2 separate regions of the Homo sapiens genome follow, and region 2 is linked to region 1. Evidence: fine-mapped expression QTL. A gene starts in region 1. The other region holds a variant in brackets. All regions are shown on one strand. Distances are from middle to middle.

What was found.
Region 2: its variant is fine-mapped to the expression of DIS3L2 in lung (TOPMed, PIP 0.95).

The regions. Positions count from the first base shown.
Region 1 is chr2:231,956,168-231,965,775 of GRCh38, reverse strand. DIS3L2 (DIS3 like 3'-5' exoribonuclease 2) reads right to left here and starts at 4,063. Exons shown (of 21, transcript NM_152383.5): 1 at 4,011-4,063. RefSeq lists a silencer at 3,806-3,965 and an enhancer at 4,096-4,185.
Region 2 is chr2:232,231,673-232,241,280 of GRCh38, reverse strand. DIS3L2 (DIS3 like 3'-5' exoribonuclease 2) reads right to left here. Exons shown (of 21, transcript NM_152383.5): 11 at 2,636-2,748. Among named protein-coding and RNA genes, the nearest start is that of MIR562, 64 kb to the right of the region's middle. RefSeq lists an enhancer at 9,317-9,608. The variant C/T (reference allele first, on the strand shown) is at 4,877.

The DNA of each region.
Region 1 (9,608 bases):
TCATTTCAGTGATTTCTCTAAAACACTTGTCACAGCCATAGTTTTGCATTTGTGTGATTATTTGAGTATCATCTGCTGAGGACAGAGATCATATGTGCATTCACTCTCCCCCATCTCCAAGGCCAAGCATAGTGCCTGGTACCAAGTAAGCACTCAAATATTATATTTGATGATTAAGTGAATAAATGAACACTAAGTCTATAAGAAAGCAACAAAACATCTTTTAAGAGGACTTAAAAGTTTGATCATCTTCACAAATGTATCTTTGGTGGATGCCCAAAGCAACTGAGTCCCCTTATTAAACATTAAACTCAAAAAAAAAAAAAAAGTCAATTCAGATGTCTACATAAATTGCTCTGGCCTTCAATGTCTCAAGGCAAATGCTGAGCATCAAAGGCTGATAGGCTAAACACACACACTCTCCTTATGTAAAGCATACCTACTGGTTGCTAAGTAACAGTTGTTTTTGGTAATTCCTGATACTACCGCTGCTACATAGGAAGCACTTCAGAAATACCAGTCAAATAAAAAAGAGCAACATTTCACAAGACTCTTGAGCATGAATGAAACAGTAACTACTTAAACTGTGGTGTTTCATATAAACCTAACACCAAATGCAGAAGCAAAGAAACTCTAAGTGGCAAAGCCCTCAGCTAGTAACTTCACTATTTTAGATGTCAAACAGGAAAAATGTCATATAGATTTGTACTAAGACTATTTGAAAGAAATAGGTCACAAATCAAGTGACCTGAAAGCATTAAATAAGAACTTCGAAATGCCACATGGAACTATTTCCCAAACTCTTAAGAATATAAGGAAAGGAATTAGGACTTCCTGTCCTCTCCAATACAAATACAAATTATATCTGTACTTTAGAGACAAATCAAGTCCCATTTAATCCAGAAATGATTTCTCCACCCTCTGACCTACTACAGCACTTAATATCCGTACCACATATTTTGCATTTAAACAAATGTCCATTTCATTGCTTTCCTAATAATTTCATGTGTGCACTTTTCTTTTATATCCTTTAAAGTGTATAATGCTGTAGATGCTTAATAAAGTTATTAAATTGGAATGAAATTATAGTTTTAAATGAATTTTGATATAGAAACTCCCACATTTTATTCCCAAATAATGTCATTTCCAAAAACGGTTCACACGCCTCAGTTTTAGCTCCATCATCATCAGATTAAAAATAAAGTCGTTATCCAACCATGTTCAAATAAGGCTTACAGTTTTCTTAGTACAGCTCATTCAAACTCAAATCAGGGGAGGTTTTCCAGTGCCATAGTGTCTTCTGAAGTGTAAGTCCATGCTATTAACAACACCTGCTCCTACTTTCTTCAATGTAGCAAATTTCACTTGAAATATTTCTCAAACCTCAAACCTAGTCAGTCCCGGGAAGATTTCCTTCTGCAGAAAACTTGTAAGCACAAAAATCTAAGCTACAGAATATACTAACCACACCTCACTCACAACTGGGAAGCAAATTCCCCAGAAAAGGATCAGTTCAAGATGTACAATTAAATGAGTCTCACACCTATAGAACAATGGAACAGAACAGAAAACTCAGAAATAAAGCCACACACCTACAACCATATGATCTTCAACAAACTGACAAAAAACAAATGGAGAAGGGACTCCCTATTCAATAAATGGTGCTGGGATAACTAACTAGCCACATGCAGAAGATATAAAACTGTATATATTTCATGATATACATAATGGGTTAAAGATTTAAATGCAAAGACCTCAGTCAGGCACAGTAGCTCATGCCTGTAATTCCAGCACTTTGGGCAACTGAGGCAGGCAGATCTTTTGAGCCTAGGAGTCAGAGACCAGCCTGACAACATGGTAAAAACCACATCTCCATAAAAAATACAAAAATTAGCCGAACGTGGTAGTGCGCACCTGTAGTCTCAGCTACTCGGGAGGCTGAGGTGGGAGGATCACTTGAGCCTGGGAAATCGAGGCTGCAGTGAGCTGCAGTCACGCTACTGCACTCCAGCCTGGGTGACAGTGAGACCCTGTCTCAAAATAAAATAAAAGACCTCAAGCTATAAAAATCCTAGAAGAAAACCCAGGAAATACACTTCTTGACACTGACCTTGGCAAATTTTTGGCTAAGTCCCCATAAGCAACTGCAGCAAAAACAAAAATTGACAAGTTGGAACTAATTAAACTAGAGCTTCTGCACAGCAAAAGAAATTATCAACAGATTAAACAGACAACCTACAAAATGGGCGAGAATATTCACAAACTATGCATCTGACAAAGGTCCAATATCCAGAATCCCTATGGAACTTAAATCAACAAGCAAAAAACAAATAAGCCCATTTTTAAAAATGGCCAAAGGACATGAACACTTCTCAGAAGAAATACAAAAAGAAAAAACCACGACATACAAGCAGCCAACAAATATATGGAAAACATGATCATGACTAATTATCAGAGAAATGCCAATCAAAACCACAATGAAATACCATCTCACACCAGTCAGAATGGCTATTATCAAAAAGTCAAAAAACAACAGATCCTCATTAGGCTCCCTTGGAAAGGGAACATTTAAACTACTGTTGGTGGGAATGTAAATTAGTTCAGCCACTGTGGAAAGCAGTTTGGAGATTTCTCAAAGAACTTAAAGAGCCACCATTTCACCCAGCAATCCCACTGTTGGGTATATAACCAAAGGAAAACAGACCATTATACCAAAAAGACATATGCAGTTGTATGTTCACGGCTGAGCTATTCACAATAGCAAACACACGGAATCAACCTAGGTGACCATCAATGGTGGACTGGAAAAAAAAAATGTGGATGTACAGGATGGAATACTATGCAGCCACAAAAAAGGAAGATATCATGTCCTTTACAGCAGCACAGATGGAGCTGGAGGCCATAATCCTAAACGAATTAGCACAAGAACAGAAAACTAAACACCACACGTTCTCACTTATAAGTGGGAGCTAAACATTGAGCACACTTACAAGTGGGAGTAGAAACATTGAGCGCACATGGACATAAACATGGGAACAGTCGGCCGGGTGCGGTGGCTCACGCCTGTAATCCTAGCACTTTGGGAGGCCAAGGCGGGCGGATCACGAGGTCAAGAGATCGAGACCATCCTGACTAACATGGTGAAACCCCGTCTCTACTAAAAATACAAAAAAATTAGCCGGGCGGGGTGGCGGGCGCCTGTAGTCCCAGCTACTCGGGAGGCTGAGGCAGAAGAATGGCATGAACCCAGGAGGCGGAGCTTGCAGTGAGCCGAATCGCGCCACTGCACTCCAGCCTGGGCGACAGAATGAGACTCCGTCTCAAAAAAAAAAAAAAAAGGTAACGGTAGACACTGTAGACTACTGGAAGGAGGGGAGAGATGGGGGATGTGGGTTGAAAAACTACCTACTGGGTTCTATGCTCAATACCTGGGTGCAATATACCCATGTGACTAACCTGCATGCGTATCCCCCATATCTAAAAGTTTATTAAAAAAAAAAACTCTCTATGATCAATAAAGGAGATAAAGTGTATCACTGTGGAAAGCGCAAACGTCAAGGACATGTTATAATTAAGCGGCTGCCCTTCAAGATTCCCGAGGCTCCCCATCCCTGCCAGTCCTGAACATCTCGATCAAGACCCTAGAGAACGCGTCCACAGGTGACCCGAGCCTCGGGAGGCGTCCTCTCTACAGCAACAGGCTCTAATTCTGGTCTCGCTCCCCTCACGCCATCCTAGGCTACAAGGGCCCCGGCGCTATAAGCGCGGCCTGGGAGGCCGGGTCGGTCAGGAGCGGAGAGTGGGGAGCTGGGGACATTGAGGGAGATGCGGGACAGGGAAGACGCGTGGGCCGGGGAGCAACGCCAGAGGCGGAAGACGCTCGTCCCGGGCCGCCACCACAGGTGCCGGGCGAAGCGCCGCGGAGCCCCCCAGAGGCCAGACCCCGGGTCGGTCCCGAGGGGGTCGTGCAGCACTAGGCGGTGCAGGGGGCAGGCGAGTGAGGGCCTCACCGTTTCTCCCCGGAGGCCGGCGCCGCCGCAGTCCCGCAGTTGCTAAGGAGAATGCTCTTCCGGGTCACGGGCGCGGCGTTCTAGAGAGCGACGGTGGCCGGGCGAGGCCGAGAGCGAAGCGCGCGGGGTGTGTGCGCGGTGCAGGAGCTCGTAGTCGGCGGTTCAGCTGCGACAAGGGCGAAATGGCCAGGCCAGGGGCCGCCGCGCCTTCTCCGGCCTCGCTCGCGGGGACAACTGGCTGCAACGGTTGGCTCCCAGTGGGCGGCCTCTGAGACGCCTTGTGCCAGGCGCCGGCTGGCTCCGGGCCCCTCTTCCACCGGAAGGAGCCTTCCAGACCCGGCTCCTGAACCTCCAGGCTCTGCTCCACTGGGCCAGGTCTTGCACGGCAGACGCCGCCGGCCCCTTTCCTGTTACAAGGCTTTGCTCATTCTTTCATTTACTCACTGCTCATTTATTGGACAACTGCTTGGGGCGAGGTGCAGTGCTGGCACTGGGGATACAGAGATGGACAACCCCCGCATGGTCCCTGCCCTCAGGATGTGAGGCTGATGGCAGAGCAAGCAGATGACGTCCTGCACGTGGGGATGATCGAAGGAAAGGAGACTAGGGGAGCCTGCCCAAGGGGCCCACCCAGACACGGGTGGGGAGCAGCTGATGTTGGAGACGTCGACCTAGTATAAAGGGTTGGGAAGAGGGTTTCAGGTGAGAGAGGAAGCGCAGCCGAGAAAGCCCCCGACAGTTCAGCCCGCCCAGGGAAGCGTGTTGAGAGGAAACAATCGTTAAGTACGGGACCTAGGAAACACCAATATTGTAGATGTGAGCAAAGGAAAAGGAAATCCAAAGAGCAGCCAGAACGTTCGGGAGAGCACAAGAGGAAAGAATGCCAGTGAGGGGATGGCCGCCATTCTCAAGCTATGGAGATCAAGTGTCCATTGGTGACCATAGAAAAATCAAACTTCCCTTTGGGAGGCCGAGGCGGGCGGATCACCTGAGGTCGGGAGTTCGAGACCAGCCTGATCAACATGGAGAAACCCCGTCCCTATTAAAAATAATAAATTAGCCAGACGTGGTGGCACATGCCTGTAATCCCAGCTACTCAGGAGGCTGAGGCTGGTGAATCGCTTTAACCCCGGAGGCGGAGGTTGCAGTGAGCCGAGATCGCACCATTGCACTCCAGAAAAAAAAAAAGAGAGAGGGAAGGAAAGACGGGAGGGCAGGGCAGGGTAGGGATCAAACTTCGGGAATACAATGTGGACAGATGCTTGAACCACCGTATGCTCCATATTGAAAAAGGAAAAGAGATGCATTAAATTGTGCCTATATTTCTCTTTTTTTTTTTTTTTTTTTTTTTGAGACGGACTATCGCTCTGTCGCCCAGGCTGGAGTGCAATGGTGCGATCTCGGCTCACTGCAACCTCCGCCTCCTGGGTTCAAGCAGTTCTCCTGCCTCAGTCCCGAGTAGCTGGGACTACAGGCGCGTGCCACCACTCTCGGCTAATTTTTGTATTTTTAGTAGAGACGGGGTTTCACCGTGTTAGCCAGGATGGTCTCACTCTTCCGCCCATCTTGTCCCAAAGTGCTGGGATTACAGGTGTGAGTCACCGCACCCGGCCAGTGCGTTGCAGTAGTCTAAGAAAATTCAGGGTTTCCCTTAGTAACTATGAGCTCCATGAAGGTGGAAAACTTTGCATCTGCAGTACCTGCCACACACACAGGCCTCAATCGATGTTTGCTTAAAGACTAAATGAACCCAAGGAACCTTTGTTTTTTAATGTTCACACAGACCTTTCTAGAACCCTCAGGAAAACTGTGATTTCAGCAAAACTTGTCTTTGAAATGTAGAGGGTAGAGGAAACCCAGCAAGGACAGGAGGCAGAGGGTGTCAGGCATCCAGGGATTCAGTGGATAGGAGAGGGGCCAGTGGGGACAGGAAGGGGAAGACCTAGAAGAGGAAGAGAACAAAGGATTGAAATAAAATCTGTGGCCGGATGCAGTGGCTCATGACTATAATCCCAGCACTTTGGGAGGCCAAGGCGGGCTGATCACTTGAGGTCAGGAGTTCGAGACCAGCCTGGCCAACATGGTGAAAACCTGTCTCTACTAAAAATACAAAAAATTAGCCAGGCATGGTGGTGGGGGCCTGTAGCCTCAGCTACTCGGGAGGCTGAGGCAGGAGAACTGCTTGAACCTGGGAGGTGGAGGTTGCAGTGAGCCTAGATCGGGCTACTGCACTCCAGCCTGGGAGACAGAGCAAGACTCCGTCTCAAAAAATAAAAAAATAAAAAGAAAACCTGAGATTTCAGGACTAGAAATAGGAGGTGAAGCCAAGGAAACCAAAAATAATTAAAAGTAGGAATAGAGAATCAAGGACAAGAGCAGAGGAAGTAGGGCTGAGACCATTATTTTCCTTAAGTTCAACGGACAAATCTCATTTTGATTGGTCGTTTGTCAAAGTGTGCTGCCTGCCTTTGTATAGGCTACAGGGCTAGGGTGGACATATCACTGTGCCCTCTTTTTTTTTTGTGGGGGTCGGGGGATGAAGTCTCACTCTGTCGCCAGGCTGGAGTGGAGTGGTGCAATCTCGGCTCACGAGGCACATCCCACCACACCCAGCTAATTTTTGCATTTTTAGTAGAGACGGGGTTTCACCATGTTGGCCAGGATGGTCTCGATCTCTTGGCCTCGTGATCCGCCCACCTCGGCCTCCCAAAGTGCTGGGGTTACAGGCGTGAGCCACAGCGCCCAGCGCACTGTGCCCTCTTAAGTGATGTGAGCCCTGGCTTCCTCACGTGGGCTAAAGGAAGATCACAACACACTCTGGAGTAGACTTGCGGCAAGAGGCTTATCCCACTAGCATATGTTCGTTCAGTCCATTACTTCAGTATGTTCCTATTGAAACAAGTATTACAATAAGCTCCCTGAAAAGAGATAGAAGTAATATTCTCTGAAAGACAACAGATCTCTCCATAACAGATGTGACAGGTTATCTGTGTCAGAAAACCAATAAATTCAAAATGTATGGCTGAAGAATTTAGAAACACCAAAATATGGGTCAAGTGGGCTATCTTGGTCCTTTAGGAGTGCTATAACACAATACCATAGATTGAGTGGCTTATGAACAACAGAAATTTGTTTATCGTGGTTCTAAAAGCTGTGAAGTCCAAGATCAAGGCACTAGCAGATTCCATCTCTGGCGAACCATTTCCTGGTTCATAGATGGCCTTCTTGTCCTGTTGTGACGTGATAGGAAGAAGGCTAGCTAGCTGGCCTCTCACAGGCCTCTTCTTAGAAGAACACTAATCCCATTAGTAAGAACTCCACTCTCATGACCCAAGTACTTCCCAAAGCCCCCACCTCCAAATACCATCACACTGGGATTAGGGTTTCAACATATGAACTTTGAAAGAACACAGACATTTAGTCCATAACAGTCTGTTATGAAGTCCAAGCCTTTCTGGAAGTTTAGGGCTTGTACACAGCTGTGGTTGCCCCAGAACCTCTCAGTCCCAGCCTGACCTGAATTCTTAGCAACCACCACCCCTAACCCAGCCTTCTGGACTAACATCTACTCAGTCACAAAAGCAGACACCATGGGGTCATCCCTGACTCCACTTTCCCTCATCACCACGCCCACACCCTAACAATCCAGTCCCTGAGCAGGTTCTGAGGATTGTCTCCTCCCCACCCAATTCCACTGCCACCAAGGACAGTGAAAGAAGCAAACAACCAAGCAACTCAGGGTCAATAACAAGTGTTGCAACCTCAGAGATGAGTCAAGGTGATAAAGGTGGGGTGTGTGTGTGTGAAAGTGTAATAACCAAATCAAACACCAAAACTCCAAGGAGATAAGATGGAATACATTCATTCAACATATTTTAGTTGCCTTTCACATGATAATTTTATCATAAAGGCAGTAAAAGATAATGAAAGGACTATTAAAAAGGGTAAAGAAAAACTAAGAATCAAACACATTCCAAGAACCAAAGTGAAGCAGGATTTGCTGGCCTTTTCGAGGCCCCAGTTCTGTTGAGGGATATGTTAAAGTGCCAGGAGCCTGGCCTTCACCAAGGCTGAGAGCGCCATGGTGAATAGAAAAGGTGTCTCACCATTCCCATATCTACTGTTTTTGGCGTCCTCAACTGCAACGACTACACCCATCCAGACCACTAATTCCAACATACAATTTTGGTCTGATTAAAGTCTATTTTTGCTCTTCTCTCAATTTAAACTTAATGTTTTTAAAAAATACATTTTCTTTTTTCTATATATAGTATTCTTTTTTCTCTTAAAATTTTTTTTTTTTTTTTTTGATACGGAGTCTTGCTCTGTCTCCAGGCTGGAGTGCAGTGGCGTGATCTCAGCTCACTGCAACCTCTGACTTCTGGGTTCAAGCGATTCTCCTGCTTCAGCCTCCCAAGTAGCTGGGACTACAGGTGCACACCACCATGCACAGCTAATTTTTGTATTTTTAGTAGAGACAGGGTTTCACCATGTTGGCCAGGATAGTCTGGATCTCTTGATCTAGTGATCCGCCTGCCTCAGCCTCCCAAAGTACTGGGACTACAGGCATAAGCCACCACGCCCAGCCTTAACTTTGAAAATCTAAATTCTATGAGAATATTTCTTTTTCTTTGGACTCTGAGGTCTTAGCTTAATTTCTCTTTTACCTTCTGGTTCCTATTTAAAATGTCATCTTTTTAAATATTTTACCTGTTAATTTTATTTTATTGGGATGTTATCAACATATTATGCTTAACTTTTTAGGTTTAATTTTTTTGTTTTGTTTTCTAGTGCTTTCCTATTTTCTTTTTTAATTTCATAAATGCTACTTTAAAAGTGGATTTTATGCTTGAACCCGGGAGGCAGAGATTGCAGTGAGCTGAGATTGTGCCATTGCACTTCAGCCTGGGAGACAGAGCAAGACTCTAAAAAAAAAATAAGAAATTAAAGTGGATTTTAGAAAATTCCCTGATTTACAGTGTTGCCCTATTCTTTCTACATTTTTATTCCCACGTTTTTAGCTTTAAATCTGTCTTAATTTTTATATTCTGTCATCATCCTATTTTATCTTTTCTTTCTCCTGTCTTCTATCTTGCATATTTTTTTCTGGTTTTGAAATTTCTCTTTTAATCACAGACACATCTCACCAGCTACAAGTGGCATCTAATAATTTTTACGCTTTAAAAGAGAAAAAAAGAATGGCATTCAATTCACAAAACCCAGAATGCTTGTACCTTTGTTTTGTTGGGGAATTCACTGAAGAGGGAGGTACAAGATTTTACTTTCTTCTGTACCTTACTGCCTGCCAGAGACCAGCCTCATATGAAGCTGGTATAACAAAAAGGGATTTCTTGTGTTGCAAATCCAATACAGCAGCAATTCAGCATAGCACTTAGGACAGAGGGAGCCAAACTGCTGGGTTCAAATCCAACTCTACCAGTTACTCACTGTGTGTGACCTTGGACAAGTTACTCAACCTCTCTGCCTCTCTGTTTTCCTTGCCTGTGAAATGTAGATAATGATAGTCATATCACCTCATGAGGTTGATATGAGATTTAAATGAGTCAATGCATGTAAAGTACTTAGAACAGTGCCTGA
Region 2 (9,608 bases), 280 kb before region 1:
GAGAATCTGGAGGGCGGAAACACAGCTCATCCAGCTTTTCAGAAGACCTTTATAGGCAAAGTAAAGTGAAAACAGCAGAAAAGTTCCTGGACACAGTCCTTTAAGAAACAAAACCGAGTAGGAAGAAAGGTCAGAGCAGCGGTTCAAAGGAATCAGAGCGCACAGCTGCTGCTGTCCAAGGTTGCGGGCCGGCGCCACTTGTGCCTGCCAAGCTGGAGGCAGTGCCGGGCAGCAGAGGCGTGCGGGCCCTTCCTCCACCCAGCTCCCCACTTTCACAACTCAGCAGCAGAGCCCCAACTCTGTAGTCCCACAGAGAAATTCTAGAACTGTGACAAACACAAAACCAAAGGAAACAGAAAAGGAAACATGCTTAATTACTTAACCCAATTTGATTTTTTCATTTTCTGATTTTGAAAAGTAATTCCTGGTTATAAAAGGAGAGCGCAGCAGCTAGTGCATGGCCGTGGCTTCATGGCCATGGGGGTCAGGGAGGAAGCCCCATGTACTCAAGAGAGATACTTGTGGGTCAGAAGTTTGCACTGCATTCTCTTAAGCTGCCTATACCTGCTCAGAGCTTGGACTCAGGTGTCATAGACATTGTGAGGGGTCGGGGGGCAAAGAGAAGTTCTTAAACATTGCATTTAGGCTTAGGCCAGCCACAGAGGTCAGGGAGGGACACAGTACGTTTGACACAAGCAAAGTCTGGTACGGAATTCCCCCTGCTCAGATGAGGACACAGCTAACTATTCTCACTAATTGGTCACTGAAGGTGCTGGGTCTTTCAGGCATCACTGTGCATTGAGATTACCTATTGCCCATGACACAGTTACCTGGAATGGGGTTTTGATGATCACACAGCTTCTGACTCAGAATTTCCTGGCTCTGATCAACTCTGTCTTCCTCTCTATTCACTATTCTCACTTCTGGGATGGCAGAAAACACGTACATGGTGGTTCTGATCACCTAATGTGAATGGTAGGCAAAGCTGTACTTCTGAAGAAATCGGCTGTACAAGTCTCCTGGAGCAGGTGGAGCTAGGGTTTTGCTCAAATATTCTAGGTTTCAGTGATCCAGAGAGTACTGTCCTGGGGCAGGGGAGAGGAGGTGCCAGGTCTTCCTAGGTAGGGCCTCCACATATTGAAGGCGGCTATGGCAGATAACAGCTCTGGCTTTCCTTTGGGACAAGAGAGCCCATCTAGGCTAGCTCCCTTTGTAGCAGGAGCAAAGGGTCTCAGACAAGGTGATTTCCACCATGGGGTGGAAGACATCACTGTCAACTGATAAGCTCAGCTACACTGGGGGAACTAAACTTGGGCCACAGGCAACAGGATCTTCAGCCCCTAGAGGATATGGCTGCACTCAAAGCCTAGACTGGTCTCTTCCCTTTTGAGAGGTTAGTTTTCAGGGTGGACAAGTTGAAAACATGAGAGGAACTCTCAGTAACACTTGGTAAATACCAGAAATCCTAGAAACTTTTGGGCTTTCCTGGATAGCTTTTGCTCCAGAAGTGCCAATACCTTTGTGAACATCAAGTAGGCACTTTGCTAGAAGTGGAGCCCAGAAATTCTAGAATGCACCTGTGGTGCTGCATTCTAGGGTGGATGGTGGGGATATTCCTCTGACCTTAGGGCAGTCAATGAGCAAATACCAGAATCATGTCCTAGGGCATGGGCTTGGGAGGCAGGAAGGCTCAAGCTAGTATAGGCAGAATCCCAAACTGGACTGCCAAATTTTAAAAAGCTAGAAAGGAAGTGGAAGTCCAGATATGGCCGAAGAAGGAAGATGAGCAAATGAGCAGAGGATCAGAGAAGGGAAAGAAGAGAAAGAAACCTGGCAGAATTCATGAACCACAGTGTGGAGGGCAGAACTTACTCATGCTTGGTCTCTTATTAACCCCTTTCTCTGAGGCCTACTGCAGTGACCATCAGATAATTGGTGCTCAATATATATGTGTTAAAGGAATGGATTCTCATGGTTACCTATTGAATGTGCCAGGTCCAAGTACACAGAATGGAAGGGATGTTTTGAGATGAATCTGTCCAGTCCCTTCATTTCACAGATGAGTCTAGGGAGGTCTGTAGACACTTAGTAACTAACCAAGAGTGGTGCAGTCAGGATGAGAGGGAAAAGCTCAGGCTCCTCCTTATCTCCCTTCGCTTTTCCATCTCGGAGACTCCCATAGCTATCTTGTAATGGGCAGGTCAGGACCAGATTGGCTCCCACCTTTTAGAACAGGGGTTGAAAACATTTCCTTAAAGGGCTTACAGTAATAGGAAATCGTCATGCCACTCTGCTGAAGTAGTGTGAAAGCAGCCACAATACATGAACAAATGCATGTGCCTGAGTTCCAATAAAACCTTACAAAAACTAGTCGCTAGTGTGGGCTGAGTTTGCCGAGCCCTGCTTTAGAACAATCGTTTGAAAGCAGGTATTTTGCCTCCTTTCTTTCTGAAGCTGAGTATCTGTCAGTTACTTATATAGCAGGGCCACTCTGGGATGAGGCCTCAGATGAACACCTGTGTCTTCCTTTGGCTTCTCTTTCCGGAGAACATGTAATAACAGAGAGCACACACTCTTCCAGGGAAACAAACAAATAAACAAAGCAAGAAAAAAGAAACTAGAGATGGATTTTTACCTTTTGAACCAAGTAGACGCTTGTAGCCCTCTCGGCAGCCACTTTATCCAGATCAGATCCCTCCGGAACAAAGTAACTCACGTCAGCAATGTGAACTCCCACTTTGAAGTTGCCTGTAAATGCACGAGAAGGACTATCAGGCTGGCGTGGAAGGCCACAGCATTCTCTCCCAGGAGTCCTTTCCTAGAATGTATGTCACTCCCAGAGGCCACAGGACCTGCAGTTAGGTGACACATCTAGTCTTGCTTGCTTCCTTCCTTGGCCACCTCCCTCTGTGACCCGCACTACTGTCACTTTCCTCATTGTATAGCAAAAGATGATGAAATTGTTCTTGTGAATAAACAAGATTAACCACTTTCCCAAGATGTTTCCCATTTCTAAAGGCTTCTTATCTTTGAGTAAACATAAGAAGATATGGCTCATTCTGGGTGATGAACAAATCCTTTTAGGTCACTAGAAGTGAATTAATCCCCAAATCCTACAGATGAAGCCTCTGAAAGCTCTGCCCTTCCTTCCCATTCCCTCTGGCCATTGCCCTATTTAGCCCACACCTGGCTGCCCTACCTCGCCTCTGTGCCCCCCTCACCTGGCCCTCCACACTTTGCTGTGATCTTTCTAAATGTGGGTCTGGGAAAGGTACTCTTAGCCTGTTATTCATGTCCTTACAGGGTCACACCCCAAGCAACCTCAGCCCCATCCTTCACATGCTCTGTATGTAGCTGTCATGGGAAACCTCTTTCCATTTCCTGAACAGATCTTCCCTCAAGCCATTTAGATGTTGGCTTGGCTCATACTTTTTCCTATGCTTGGGATAGTCTTAACAGGATCTGCCTATCAAAATCTTCCTTACTTTATTTGGGTCAACTGAAAGAGAATCCCCAAACAAGAAGAGGTTCCTCTACCCCCCTCCCACCATTTCCTCCACCTGTCTGTCTCCTCCAACTCCCCACCACCCCGCCCCCAACCATTTCCTCCATCTGCACTGTAAAGCACGTACTCCACACCTGTTGAGGCTTACCGTGGTCTTTCTTCAGAGCTCTCATCACTACCAGATATCACGGCATATCTCTATCGGCTTGTGTGTTTGTTATCTGTCTCTCTCCCTACCATGTAAGCTCCAGCAAATAAGGCCTTTTGTGTAATGTTCACTGTTACCCAAGGCCTGGAAGAGTACCTGGCACATAATAGGTCCTCAAGAAGTACTTGTTGAATGAATGAATCAACAGTCGGTCTGTCTTTTCCCTCTGGTAAAGGACCCACTTTCTTTTTCCTTTTAGAACTGCTCCTTCCCTTCCTGGTGGAGCTGTCTTTTAATAGGCCCTGCCCTCCCTACCAGGTTTACCAGAGAGTTGGTCAGGTGACCAAGGCTGTTAGAACTGTACCTTAAATGAGGGAGGGTAGTTAGGTTATAAACTTAAGATTTATTCTTGAACATACTGTAAATCACCTATCAAATATAGTGTATGTGAAAATAAAAATATACACATACATACAAGAGTATATACATACGTACATACATATACATGTATGTGTGTATGAAAATACAGAAAATGAACCAATTACAAAAAAAGAGTATACATGTAAAATAAGTATATAGGCTGGGCACGGTGGCTCATGCCTGTAATCCCAGCACTTTGGGAGGTCAAGGCTGGCGGATCACTTGAGGCCAGGAGTTTGAGACCAGCCTGGCCAACATGGCAAAACCCCATCTCTACTAAAAATAAAAATTAGCCAGGTGTGGTGGCACACACCTGTAGTCCCAGCTACTCAGGGGGCTGAGGCAGGAGAACTGCTTGAACCTTGGAGGCAGAGGTTGTAGTGAGCTGAGATTGTGCCACTGCACTTCAGCCTGGGCAACAGAGCAAGGCTTTGTCTCGAAAAAATAAAATAATAAAATAAAATAAGTATACAGTTTAAAGATATACAATGGGCAGAGAGAAGCACATGGAAGATACAAGCATAGTGCTGAATTTGCTTCAGTTGAACAATACAACTTGTTGTATTGATAAATGATATGAACTTCAGGAAAGAGGGTCTCTCTCCTGGGATCCTAGGCACTAAGGACCACATAAACCTGGAGCTGCCAGGAAACATCTATGCTACATAATCATGCCAATACAGAAAATAATAGTCTAAGAAAGAAAAGAAGAATTATGACCTCATTTGAACTTCAGGATCCAGCTGAGCCTGAAACTAGTCTACCTGTGGACTTGGCAGTTAATGAGTGGATCAATTCCCTTT[C/T]CATTATGACTCACTGACAGAGTCTTGACTCATACCCAAGTTGGCTTAGAAGAACTTATTAACACAGTACCATCTGCTCTTTTGGTAACCTGAATGATCAGTCCTAAGGTATCACACATTTTATCTGCAAACTGTGTAGCTACTTATTATCCTCCTACTCCTTCACTGGGGGATAATTCTTCCCTCAGTTTTTAAAATGGAAAAATGCTTAAACGTGGGATGCTTGAAAAAAGGGGTTCAGGCAAGGAAAAGAATTTAAGATTCCCTATTCTTCATCTGGTGTGACACTCAGAGACCACCTTCCTACAGGGCATTCTTCAGGTTTTTCCGCCCAATCCTGTAGCTGTAATACATAAAGGAATACTTAAGTCCACTTAAGAGATCCTGGCTGCTATGGGGTAACATAACAGATCTGTTTCCCACAGAGGAGAGGGCTGTCTGGAAAGCTGAGAGGAACCAGCATGACTCCAAGCTTAGCTGCCTCATTCTGACAGGCACGCAGCTGTGTCGCTGGGTCACTGGGAGCAGTGAAACCTGCCCTGCGATCGAGGAACTGAACTTTATGTGAATTCAGCCAAGAGTCTCAGATGGCTCAACTTCCAGTTTTGATATTTCAAGTATCTAAAACCAACACTTAGAGAAGGTAAAATAAAGTGTCTTCTTTTGAAGTCAGCATTATAATATATTGGCCTAACAGGTAAATATTGACTGAAGGACAAAAGAGAGGATTATTACATCATGATATAAACCATAATTTTAAATTCAGTCTCTGTGTTACTGCACATGAACTTTCTGTCCTTAGTCAAAATTGACAAACTGACAAAGAGTTCATTACAGGAGATAAAATATGAAGAAGGCCAATCAAAACATATTCAAGAGGCTTAAATTTCATTCAGAATTCCCAGCAGAGCCTCTGAAACCAGCAAAGAGAAGCTCTCTTATTCTCTGCTTTGGATCTTTTTTATGGAAACCCTAAGTAAATATTTTATTATATATGTTTACATAATGTGAACTTGCAGAACTCTTGAGGTGGTGGCACTGAACTTTTTATTCTATGAAAGAGAAACTATAAATCCAAAAGTCACATGGCATATGCTGCCAAAATGTTTAAGACAAATTTGATATTTTAAAAGATACTGGCTTTCATATGAAAGCATTCTTTTAAAATATTTTTAAATTTAAAACTTTCATCTGCCAGGGAGTAGGTGAGCCTGTGTGTTTAAAGAGCATTTAGAGCAGAGAGAGGAAGGATCCCCCGGGCAGCCGGGCCTGGCTCACTTTGCCTAGGGTCCACAAACTTAGATGAGTACAAACACTCCTTTGAATGAACCTGACGGGACATGAGAACTGCTTCATCCAATTAAAACATAGATTATAAAGCGGGATTCAGAAACCATCTCTTTGAAGCCAGCCTTCCAACCAGTGCAGCCACTTCCCCACAGTGTCCCTGCCAGGTGGCCCCTGCTATATCCTCAAGAGTGGGAAGCTGACATCTTCTTGAAGCCACCTGCTCTCTTTCTGAAGAGCTCTGGTAGGGGAAGTGCTTCCTCACATGGATCCTCTAGTTTATGCCCGCACTAGACATCTGTGAGTGGGGACCCATCCATTTAAGGAGCTCTCGGTCTAATGGGGCTCATACATACACCCGTGTGATAACTCAAGTATATGGCAGTAAGCTGAACTGCAATCAGTGAGGACATCTGAAAGTGTTTTGTGATCCATAACAACTACATAAATGTAACATAGACTATGATGATCATAAAAATAATAAAGACCTGTAATCCCAGCACTTTGGGAGGCTGAGGTTGGCGGATCACCTGAAGTCAGGAGTTCAAGACCAGCCTGGCCAACATGGGTGAAACCCCATCTCTACTAAAAAATACAAAAATTAGCCAAGTGTGGTGGCGCATGCCTGTAGTCCCAGCTACTTGGGAGGCTGAGGCAGGAGAATCACTCGAACCCGGGAGGTGGAGGTTGCAGTGAGCCAAGATCACACCACTGCACTCCACCCTGAGCAAGAGTGAGACTCCGTCTCAAGAAGAAGAAAAATAATAACAATAATAATACAGATAGCAGGAGTGAACATTTATTAAATGTCTCCTCTGTGCTAGGGGCTTCACACACAAGCTAACTTTGACTACAGCTATGCATATCGTTTTGCACAGATGAATTATCTGAGATGCAGAGAGTTTTTCAGTCACTTTTCCAGTTACTTGGCTAAAAAGTGAGAAATCCCAGATTCAAAACCAGGTTGGGTTCAGATCCTTTGCTCCTTTTATTACCCCTCGCCATAAACTGTCACTGCAACTCCAGAACAAGATGATACAACCCAATTTTTCATCTCAGTGGGCCACAGCTCAAAATCCCTCCCTATCTCTCATAACTCCAAGGAAGCCACATTCTCAGCTCTGGATTCAGAAGTCCTGGCAGAGACTCTTTCCAGCCATGTTCACTCCTGTCCCTGCAGGCTCTTTTGGTTCCCGTTGTCAGTCTCCTTAACCACTTGTAGCAGGGCCTGATTATAGAACAACCACTAAGCCATTAACTCCAGTTCTATTTAATTAGATGAACAAGCTCTTTAAAATCTAAACCACTCCTAAATTTCTAGCTTACAGTCATTTTTAGCTGGTAGTACAGAGACTGTCTGAACGACTCAAGAGGCCTGTGCCAGGAATGAGCACAACCAGGGTGGCCACCTACTATAGGTGGGGCCTTCCCTTACCAGCAGTGAGATAAGGCCTTCCAGACTTGGGTCACTTCATTCACTTTTACCCATTGCTGAGACTGGACAGTGGTCACAGTGGTGACAGAGGCTCTTCTTGACATCAGCAGGACACTCCTCACATAAAACAATATTATGTGTTGTGATAGATATTTGCTCCCCCCAGTCTCCCCACTCCCTGCCAATTCACAGGTTGAAATTCAATCCCCAATGTGATGGCATCAGGAGGCAGACCTCTGGGAGGTTATCAGGCCTCAGAGGTAGATCCCTCACAAATAGGATTAGTGCCTTATAAAAGGGACCCCAGACAGCTCTCTCATTCTTTCTACTATGTAAGGACGCAATGAGAAGGTGCTGTTCCATGAACCAGGAAGTGGGCCGTCACTAGACACTGGATCTGCCAGCATCTTGATCTTGGACTTCCCAGCCTCAAGGACTGTGAGGAATAAATCCGTTGTTTTAGTTCTTTATGCCACCTAGTCTACAGTATTCTGTTATAGCAGCCTGAATGGACTAAGGCACATGTGATGCCTGGAAAGCCTTTTAATATACTTCATCAGCAAAAAATAACTGCTTTGTCCAGGTCACTAATAACCTCTGTGCACTGAATCCAAACCTTTGTAGGCCTGACCTTATAGCAGCATCTGAAGCCTGGTGATTCTGTGCCCTCCCCACCCCAACACCTTGAGACACTCCTCCTTAGCTCTGGGCCCCACTCTGGGTGTCTAAGCTCCATGTCTGCTCCTCTTCAAGTTTCTCTGCCTCTCCGTGTCCCTTAAGTGTGGCGTGCCAAGCCTCCGTGCTCTGCCCCAGGCTGCCTTCTCTTCTAATTCTACCCCTTCTCTCTGGATTGTCTCATCTACTTCCAGGGATTCAAACCTCATTTCTGTGCTTTGGTCTTCTAATTGTATATCACCAGCCTAGACTTCTCTGAGCTTCAGATTGATGTATACAAAGTCTACTGAGAATTGTCACTCAGCTGTCCCACGGTCACATCACACTCATACCTCCATAAGCCCCTACTGGCAGCAAAACCATTTCTCTCCCTGTGTTTCCTGTCCCAGGAAGTGGGATCACCTCCACTAAACCAAAAGTGATACCCATGCTTGCCTAAACCAAAAAGAAACCTGGGACTTTCTCAGGCCTGTGTCGATCAATCATTCTGACTCTACCTTCCATACGTCTCTCACATCTGCCCATATGTCTTCCTTCCCACCACTGTCACCTTGGCCAAGACCACCATGGCTTCTTCTAAGAAATATCTAACAACCTCCTATTGCTCTCCCTGCCATTTCTCAAACTGATTTTCCATAGTGAAGACAGTGCCCTTTCCAAACACAAATCTGCCTGTCGCCTCACCATCTACACCCTCCAGAGGCCCTGCTGCCCTGAGCACGCAGCCCAGACCTGGCTTCTGTGGCCTGCCTGGCCTGGCTTTTGCCCACCCCTCCCATCCCATGGTCTTGTTTCTTCCACTCCTCCCCTGCACACCATCCTCTATCACCACTTCACAAGAAGCTGATACCAACCCAACTGCTCATCATGTGGGTCTGCTCTGTGCATGTTTTGACTTTCCTGGCCCTTATCCCTTAAATGACAGTTACACCCCCAAGACACTGTGATGGGGCTCCCATGCTCACACCCAGGGGTCTCCCCGCGGTTCTCTCTATTCCTCTTCCTGGCAACCCCCACTGGTCCTTCAAACTACCACCTAAAGTCACTTCCTCCGGCAGGCCTGCCCTGATGACCTAGACCAGGCTCAATCCCCTTCTGTGTCTTCCTACAGCTTCTCAACTCTTTCACCCCCATTTACTACATGCGGATCATGAACTACCTCCTGACTCTCTGTAATCAGCATGATGGGCAGGGAAAGGGCTGGGCCCGCAGTGATTGACATTTACTGAATGAAAAAGAAAGTAACAAAAAATACAGGGCAGGCGCCCTGCTGCTCTGGGCTGAAAGGATTGTAAACCCTGCCTAACTGCCCATGCAGGTGCTGAGCCCTCTCCA